Homo sapiens: one gene and its partner. The protein of the gene in region 1 purifies or fractionates together with the protein of each later gene. This does not show direct contact. Each region holds a gene or a part of one and is shown on either strand. Other genes may lie near its edges.

What was found.
Region 2: the proteins of TTPAL (region 1) and PTPN9 purify together in Homo sapiens (affinity purification with mass spectrometry; one large-scale study listed by BioGRID and IntAct). This does not show direct contact.

The regions. Positions count from the first base shown.
Region 1 is NC_000020.11:44,474,545-44,478,814, forward strand, and holds the start of TTPAL (alpha-tocopherol transfer protein-like), read left to right. Parts: upstream 1-1,329; 5' UTR 1,330-1,447; exon of another isoform or gene 1,448-4,103; intron 4,104-4,270. UniProt on the Homo sapiens protein: May act as a protein that binds a hydrophobic ligand.
Region 2 is NC_000015.10:75,502,624-75,506,432, reverse strand, and holds part of PTPN9 (tyrosine-protein phosphatase non-receptor type 9), read left to right. Parts: intron 1-429; coding exon 430-758; intron 759-3,393; exon of another isoform or gene 3,394-3,430; intron 3,431-3,809. UniProt on the Homo sapiens protein: Protein-tyrosine phosphatase that could participate in the transfer of hydrophobic ligands or in functions of the Golgi apparatus.

The DNA of each region.
Region 1 (4,270 bases):
AAGAAGGGGCCATAAGCTAAGGAATGCAGGTGGCCTCTACAAACTGTAAAAGGAAAGGAACTGATGCTTCCTCCAAATCCCCAAAAGAATGCAGCCTTGCCAACACCTTGATTTTAGACTTTTGACCTAGAGAACTGCAAGAGAATATATCTGTGTTGTTTCAATCCATGAAGTTTGCAGTAATTCCTTGTAACAGTAACAGGAAAATAATACATAGATTTAGCAAACAAAACAAAATCCAGGATGCCCAGTAGTCATATTTGAATTTCCTATAAACAACAATTTTTAAAGTATAAATGTGTCCCAAATGTTGCATAGGACACACTTATCTGTGTGTATGTGTGTGTGTGTTTGGAAAGGAACATGCTTAAATGTTTATCTGAAATTCAAACTGTAGTGAATGTTATATATTTTGTCTGTCAATCTTAGAAGTGATGAAACTGAGAGCAGGAGTCAAAACTCATGATTCCCAGGTCGCCTCCATACTGCTGCCCCCTGCCCCTCAATCTGGCAGAAACTGCCACGTTCTTGTGGCCCTCATGGGTCACTTCCCATCTTCTTGGGACTCCTCTTGCCCCTGGGGTAGGAAAATGAAAAGACTGTTTAAGGTCGTTTCTTTAGGCTCAGAGTTCTCCTGGACCACCAGAGGTTCTGCCTCAGAGGGACCTAGGAGATTTGCCTCAAAGTTGCAGTTGCACAAAATACTTGCGGGCGGATCTTAATGGACTGGGGTGGGAGTTAGTAAAGCCTTTGTCTGGAGGGAACGTAATGAACCCCAAAGCAGGAAAAAAGTAATTATTGAATCAGGCTCCAGAGCAAGAATCAGGTTTCAGGTAAGGAAACGGAAGCACAAGAAGGAATGGGGACTTGCTCCAGGTCACTCAGTTAATGACAGACAGATGTCCCCTGGTTTGGAGTCTCCCTTTTTGGAGCAGCTAGTCCTGATAGCAGCCATAGTGGGGGGAAGTCTAGAATGCTAATCCTGAGGTCCGGGTTTGAAGCCCTTTACTGCCTTGATTGCCAGTTTCCCTTTCCTGAAATAGGGGAATTGCATAAATATGAGGAGTTAATGAGATCATGGATGTTAAACAACAGGTACATGTTAGCATGTTCTTGGAAAATGGCAGCTTCTTTCCTTCCTTCTCTGAGCCTCAGTTTCCCCATCTATAAGCCGGGTTTGACAAGCGGCTGGTGCCCCAGCTCCTCCCAGCCACTCCAGGTCCGCAGCTCGGAGCTCCGGCAGCCAGGTGGGGACTGAACACCAACGCCGCGGGGAGGCGTCGCACATGCGCGCTCCTAGGCGGAGCCCCGCCTCCCACGCCCTGGATCGTCACTTCCGGCGCGAGAGGCCGGGCAGGCCGGGCAGGGAGTGCGGGTCGGTTCTGCGTGCGCTGCCGGACGAGGCTCCCGCCGCCGATTGACCCGCGCTCCGCCCGTAGTCGGGCCGGTGAGTGCCCGCGAGCCCATCCGTGTGCCCTGGGAGCTGAGGAGAGGGACCCCTGAGAGGGAAGGATAACCGGAAGTGGGGACCAGAGGAGCGAGAGACCCCAGGAAATGGGGACACCTGGGGAGGGGGTGACAGCCGGAAGTGGGGGCCTCGGAAGGTTGTCCACGGGATATGGGGTCTCGGGGGCTCTAGGAGAGATGGCTTCCTGACCTCTCCTTGTTGAGAGGAAGGGGTGGAAAGGAAAGTGATGCTCCAGAAAGGATGGGCTCCAGGTGGGGGAGATCTTTGGCTTCACCGTTACCAATGGTGTCTGCATCTCACTCATATGTCCGCCTGTCAGCTCATTCACCAGCCTGTGACTGAGTCCTGCTGAGCGCTCGGCACTGCTGAGTCCCTGGAGAGTCAACATGAAGCTCCAGGTGGAGGGTACAGATTAGAAGCCCAGGGTGGGGCTAGACGCATCCTTGCTCTGCCTCACCGGGTGTGCCCCCTTGGGCGAATCGCTTAACCTATATCCTCCGCTGATGTGTACAGACCACTGCCATGTGCCCGGCACTGGGGGTGGCAGTGGACATGGCAGACAAGCCCTCTGCCCTCGTGGAACTTAGATTCTAGGGGACAGTCCTTTTTGTCCTCCTTTGTAAAATGGCAACAGTAATAGCGCTCTCACCAAATAACGTGAAGATTAAATGAGGAAATGGGTAAAGGGCTTAGCAATGCTTGATACATGGTAAAATGCTCAAGTATGCATTCTCTTCATTCCACTATAATGTAAGCTTTATTAGGCAAGGAATTGTATTGTTTGCGTCTGTGTTCCCAGTGCCTGTGAGCACAGTGCCTGACATATATGGTAGGTGATCGGTAATTATTTGATAAATGAGTGCGTGGTGAAACTGACTCTAGATAAATGCCCATAGCATTGGACTGTAATTTCTAAAAAAGAAATAGGAACCCAGTTCTGTGGAAAACTGGAGGGAATCACCCTCAGGGAGTTTGGGAAGGATTCACTGAGGTGGTGACATGGCAGCTGAGCCTGAGCTGTCAAGTTAGGAACAAATTAGAAGAGGAAATTCCAGGCAGAGTGTATCAGAAGTGCACGAGTTATTCCAAGGATGATGGGTTATTAGTTTGTTTTGACTGGCATTTAATGTGCATCAAGGTGGGGTGCGATGGAAAATGAGGCTGGAGAGGGGCTTTGAGGTGAGGCTTGTACCTTGTGAACACTGATGTTTGATGGGATTGCAGGCATCTCTTGGTTACTTCCATAGAAACAAAGCCATAGTTGTTCCATTCCTCACTTAGCATACCTGTGCCAACCAGACTAAAGTCATTCAACAAATATTTATGGAGTGCAGATTATGTGTCTAACACCATGTTAGGCGCTGGGTTTCAGGTGATGAACAAGACAAACTTGGATGTTGCTCACAAATTGCCAACAGACAATTGCAACAGGGTGGGAGAAGTGCGGGGGAGGCACCTAACCTGGCTGGGGGTCAGTGAAGGCTACCTACTCCAGGCCACCAGCATCTCTCAGCTGGATTATTGCAATAGCCTCTAAATGGTCTGCTTCAGTCCTCACTCCCTTAGAGTCCATTCTCAAGACAGCAGATTGGTCCTTTTAAAATATATTTTTATTTATTTATCTATCTATCTATTTATTTATTTATTTATTTATTTATCTGAGATAGCGTCTCGCCCTGTCGCCCAAGCTGGAGTGCAGTGACATGATCTCGGCTCACTGCAACCTCCGCTTCCTGGTTTCAAGCGATTATCCTGCTTCAACCTCCCAAGTAGCTGGCACTACAGGCCCGCACCACCATGCCTGGCTAATTTTTGTATTTTTAGTAGAGACAGGGTTTCACCATGTTGGCCAGGCTGGTCTCGAACTCCTGACCTCAGGTGATCCATCCACTTCAGCCTACCAAAGTGTTGGGATTACAGGCATAAGCCACCACACACAGCCCAAGAAAAAATTTAAAAATTAGCCAGGCGTGGTGTGTGCCTATAGTCCCAGCTACCTGGGAGGCTGAGGCAGGAGGATTGCTTGAACTTAGGAGTTCGAGGTTGCAGAGAGCTATGATTGCGCCACTGCACTTCAGCCTGGGTGACAGAGCAAGACCCTGTCTCTCTCTTAAACAAAAAAGTGCATGAGTTCAGGTCCTCTAAGAAGCAGACACTAGGATGAGGTTAGACGTGCTAGAAATGTAGAGGCAACCCTTGCGAAGGACAGCACCTGGGAAGGGAGCTGGAGAAGTCAGGAAGAGCCACTGGCAGTGATGCAGATCAGCTCCTGTGAAGGAGGTTTGGGCAGCAAGTCTCTGACTGCAGGGCAGTCCCAACAAAGGTTTGGCCAGGCCCTCAAGCAAACGCTGCCTGTTAGAGGAGTCCTATGTCTCACTAAATCATTGGCTAGGAGCAGTGAGGCCACAGAAGGGCTGTGGAAAGTTCTGGCTTCCCCTGGATAGTGGATCTAGAGGGACAGCCACTGGGGCCCTTTATCAATTACGTTTTCCCAGCAGATCTGACCGGCACATATTCCCGACTGCCACGATAAGTTACATGGGTGTGTAGTAAAAAATTCAAACAGTATAGTAAAAATCCTCTTTCTCATCTTAAATCTTCACTTGTCCAGTTCTGTTCCAAGAGATAACCATTGGTAAGTTTCTTATATCTCTTTCCAGAAGTTTTGTGTGCATTCACAAGTGTATGTGTATAGTTTAAAAACGTGATTTTCTGTACACTATTCTGCAACTTGCTTTTTTAATATGTCAATTCATAAAGATCTGCCTACTTTTCGCTTTTTTTGTTTGTTTGTTTTGAGAG
Region 2 (3,809 bases), on another chromosome or scaffold:
CTGAGTAAAATACAAGCTAACAGGCCTTAGAATTGGTTGTCTGAGTATGGGGTTGACAAAAATAACTACTACCTATGCATTCTTAGTGGCCAAAAAAAGAGTACCAGCATGCAGCGATGCTGGGAAGCCTTGTTAATAATATAAAGCTTTTGTTCACTACATCGTCCTTTCAGAAGATGTATAACAGTGTCCCTAATTCCAGGAGTGAATTTTATATACATTCTGGGAGTTCACACTTTTATCTGGCAAATTCATAGGACTTAAATCTCAGGCAGATGAAATGTAGTCTACTACTTTTACAAGTATACCTTGTATTTCAAGAAAATCTTATCCCATCCTCCAAACCTGATATAAATACATTTATTCTTTGTCACTCTATATGCCTTTCCCTCCTCCCACATACTCACATGGTTCTTTCTAACCTTCCAGATTCAAATATTAAAGACATCTGAGGTCACGCAGCATCTGCCCAGGGAGTGTCTTCCAGAAAACCTGGGTGGGTACGTCAAAATTGATCTCGCCACTTGGAATTTCCAGTTCCTACCCCAGGTGAACGGCCACCCAGATCCCTTCGATGAGATCATCCTGTTCTCCCTCCCTCCTGCCTTAGACTGGGACTCAGTACATGTTCCAGGTCCCCATGCTATGACCATCCAAGAGTTGGTGGACTATGTTAATGCCAGGCAAAAGCAAGGAATCTATGAGGAATATGAAGACATTCGTCGTGAGAACCCTGTTGGCACTTTCCACTGTTCCATGTAAGTAGAAAAAGTTTGGGCCAGCAGCTGGTTACCAGGATGCTTCTGGTAGGCTCTGGCAACAGCTCCTTCCACCCCTCACTTGCTTAGCAGAGACCCTTCCTTATGTTAGGGAACATCACTCTCACATAAATGATGGTTTCTCGCATGCAGAAAGAGGTACTTTCTGCTTTGGTGCTTCTTTTTTTTTTTCTTTTTTTTTTAAATTTTTATTTTTTTTATTGATCATTCTTGGGTGTTTCTCGCAGAGGGGGATTTGGCAGGGTCATAGGACAATAGTGGAGGGAAGGTTGGCAGATAAACAAGTGAACAAAGGTCTCTGGTTTTCCTAGGCAGAGGACCCTGCGGCCTTCCGCAGTGTTTGTGTCCCTGGGTACTTGAGATTAGGGAGTGGTGATGATTCTTAACGAGCATGCTGCCTTCAAGCATCTGTTTAACAAAGCACATCTTGCACCGCCCTTAATCCATTTAACCCTGAGTGGACACAGCACATGTTTCAGAGAGCACAGGGTTGGGGGTAAGGTCACCGATCAACAGGATCCCAAGGCAGAAGAATTTATCTTAGTACAGAACAAAATGAAAAGTCTCCCATGTCTACTTTCTACACAGACACGGCAACCATCCGATTTCTCAATCTTTTCCCCACCTTTCCCCCCTTTCTATTCCACAAAACCGCCATTGTCATCCTGGCCCGTTCTCAATGAGCTGTTGGGTACACCTCCCAGACGAGGTGGTGGCTGGGCAGAGGGGCTCCTCACTTCCTAGTAGGGGTGGCTGGGCAGAGGTGCCCCTCACCTCCCGGACGGGGTGGCTGGCCAGACCCCCCCACCTCCCTCCCGGACGGGGCGGCTGGCCAGGCGGGGGGCTGACCCCCCCACCTCCCTCCCGGACGGGGCGGCTGGCCGGGCAGAGGGGCTCCTCACTTCCCAGTAGGGGCGGCCGGGCAGAGGCGCCCCTCACCTCCCGGGCGGGGGGCTGACCCCCCCACCTCCCTCCCGGACAGGGCGGCTGGCCGGGCGGGGGGCTGACCCCCCCACCTCCCTCCCAGACGGGGCGGCTGGCCGGGCAGAGGGGCTCCTCACTTCCCAGTAGGGGCGGCAGGGCAGAGGCGCCCCTCACCTCCTGGACGGGGCGGCTGGCTGGGCGGGGGGCTGACCCCCCCCACCTCCCTCCCGGACGTGGGGCTGACCCCTCCACCTCCCTCCCGGACCGGGCGGCTGGCCGGGCGGGGGGCTGATCCCCCCACCTCCCTCCCGGACGGGTCGGCTGGCCGGGCGGGGGGCTGAGCCCCCCACCTCCCTCCCGGACGGGGTGGCTGGCCCGGCAGAGGGGCTCCTCACTTCCCAGTAGGGGCGGCTGGGCAGAGGCGCCCCTCACCTCCCGGACGGGGCGGCTGGCCGGGCAGGGGGCTGACCTCACCTCCCTCCCGGACGGGGCGGCTGGCCGGGCGGGGGGCTGACCCCCCCGACCTCCCTCCCGGACATGGGGCTGACCCCCCCACCTCCCTCCCGGACGGGGCGGCTGTCCGGGCGGGGGGCTGACCTCCCCACCTCCCTCCCGGACGGGGCGGCTGTCCGGGCGGGGTGCTGATCCCCCCACCTCCCTCCCGGACGGGTCGGCTGGCCGGGCGGGGGGCTGAGCCCCCCACCTCCCTCCCGGACGGGGCGGCTGGCCCGGCAGAGGGGCTCCTCACTTCCCAGTAGGGGCGGCTGGGCAGAGGCGCCCCTCACCTCCCGGACGGGGCGGCTGGCCGGGCGGGGGGCTGACCCCACCTCCCTCCCGGACGGGGCGGCTGGCCGGGCGGAGGGCTGACCCCCCCTCACCTCCCTCCCGGACGGGGCGGCTGGCCGGGCGGGGGGCTGACCCCCCCACCTCCCTCCCGGACGGGGGGCTGACCCCCCCCCCACCTCCCTCCCGGATGGGGCGGCTGGCCGGGTTGGGGGCTGACTCCCCCACCTCCCTCCCGGACGGGGTGGCTGGCCAGGCAGAGGGGCTCCTCACTTCCCAGTAGGGGCGGCTGGGCAGAGGCGCCCCTCACCTCCCGGACGGGGCGGCTGGCCGGGCGGGGGGCTGACCCCCCCACCTCCCTCCCGGACGGAGCGGCTGGCCGGGCGGGGGGCTGACCCCCCCACCTCCCTCCCGGACGGGGCGGCTGCCGGGCGGAGACGCTCCTCACTTCCCAGACGGGGTGGCTGCCGGGCAGAGGGACTCCTCACTTCTCAGACGGGGCGGCTGCCGGGCGGAGGGGCTCCTCACTTCTCAGATGGGGCGGATGCTGGGCGGAGGGTCTCCTCACTTCTCAGACGGGGCGGCTGGGCAGAGACGCTCCTCACCTCCCAGACGGGGTCGCGACCGGGCAGAGGAGCTCCTCACATCCCAGACGGGGCAGCGGGGCAGAGGCGCTCCCCACATCTCAGACGATGGGCGGCCGGGCAGAGATGCTCCTCACTTCCCAGATGGGATGGCTGCCGGGAAGAGGCGCTCCTCACTTCCTAGATGGGATGGCGGCCGGGCAGAGACGCTCCTCACTTTCCAGACTGGGCAGCCAGGCAGAGGGGCTCCTCACGTCCCAGACGATGGGCGGCCAGGCAGAGACGCTCCTCACTTCCCAGACGGGGTGGTGGCCGGGCAGAGGCTGCAATCTCGGCACTTTGGGAGGCCAAGGCAGGCGGCTGGGAGATGGAGGTTGTAGTGAGCTGAGATCACGCCACTGCACTCCAGCCTGGGCACCATTGGGTGCTTCTTGCTAACATCCTATGCTCTGAAATTTCTGAAGGTCTTTGGTACCAACAGGATAACCCTGTTGGACATATTTTTGGATATTTTTCTGAAATGCAAGTTTTTTTTAAAAAAAGTAGGTTCAAAATAGGCTACTCTCTATTCCAGTACTCAGTGTGAGTGCTGGTCTGTTCATTTGGGCAGTTTCTCCCCATAACATTTATGGTATAACATTACTTCTTGAGGAGGGGTATGTGGTACACTTAAAATAATCCACAGTCAGAGAGTACAGTTGCCTCATAGGACTTTAACCCCTTGAGATTTTCATTCTAC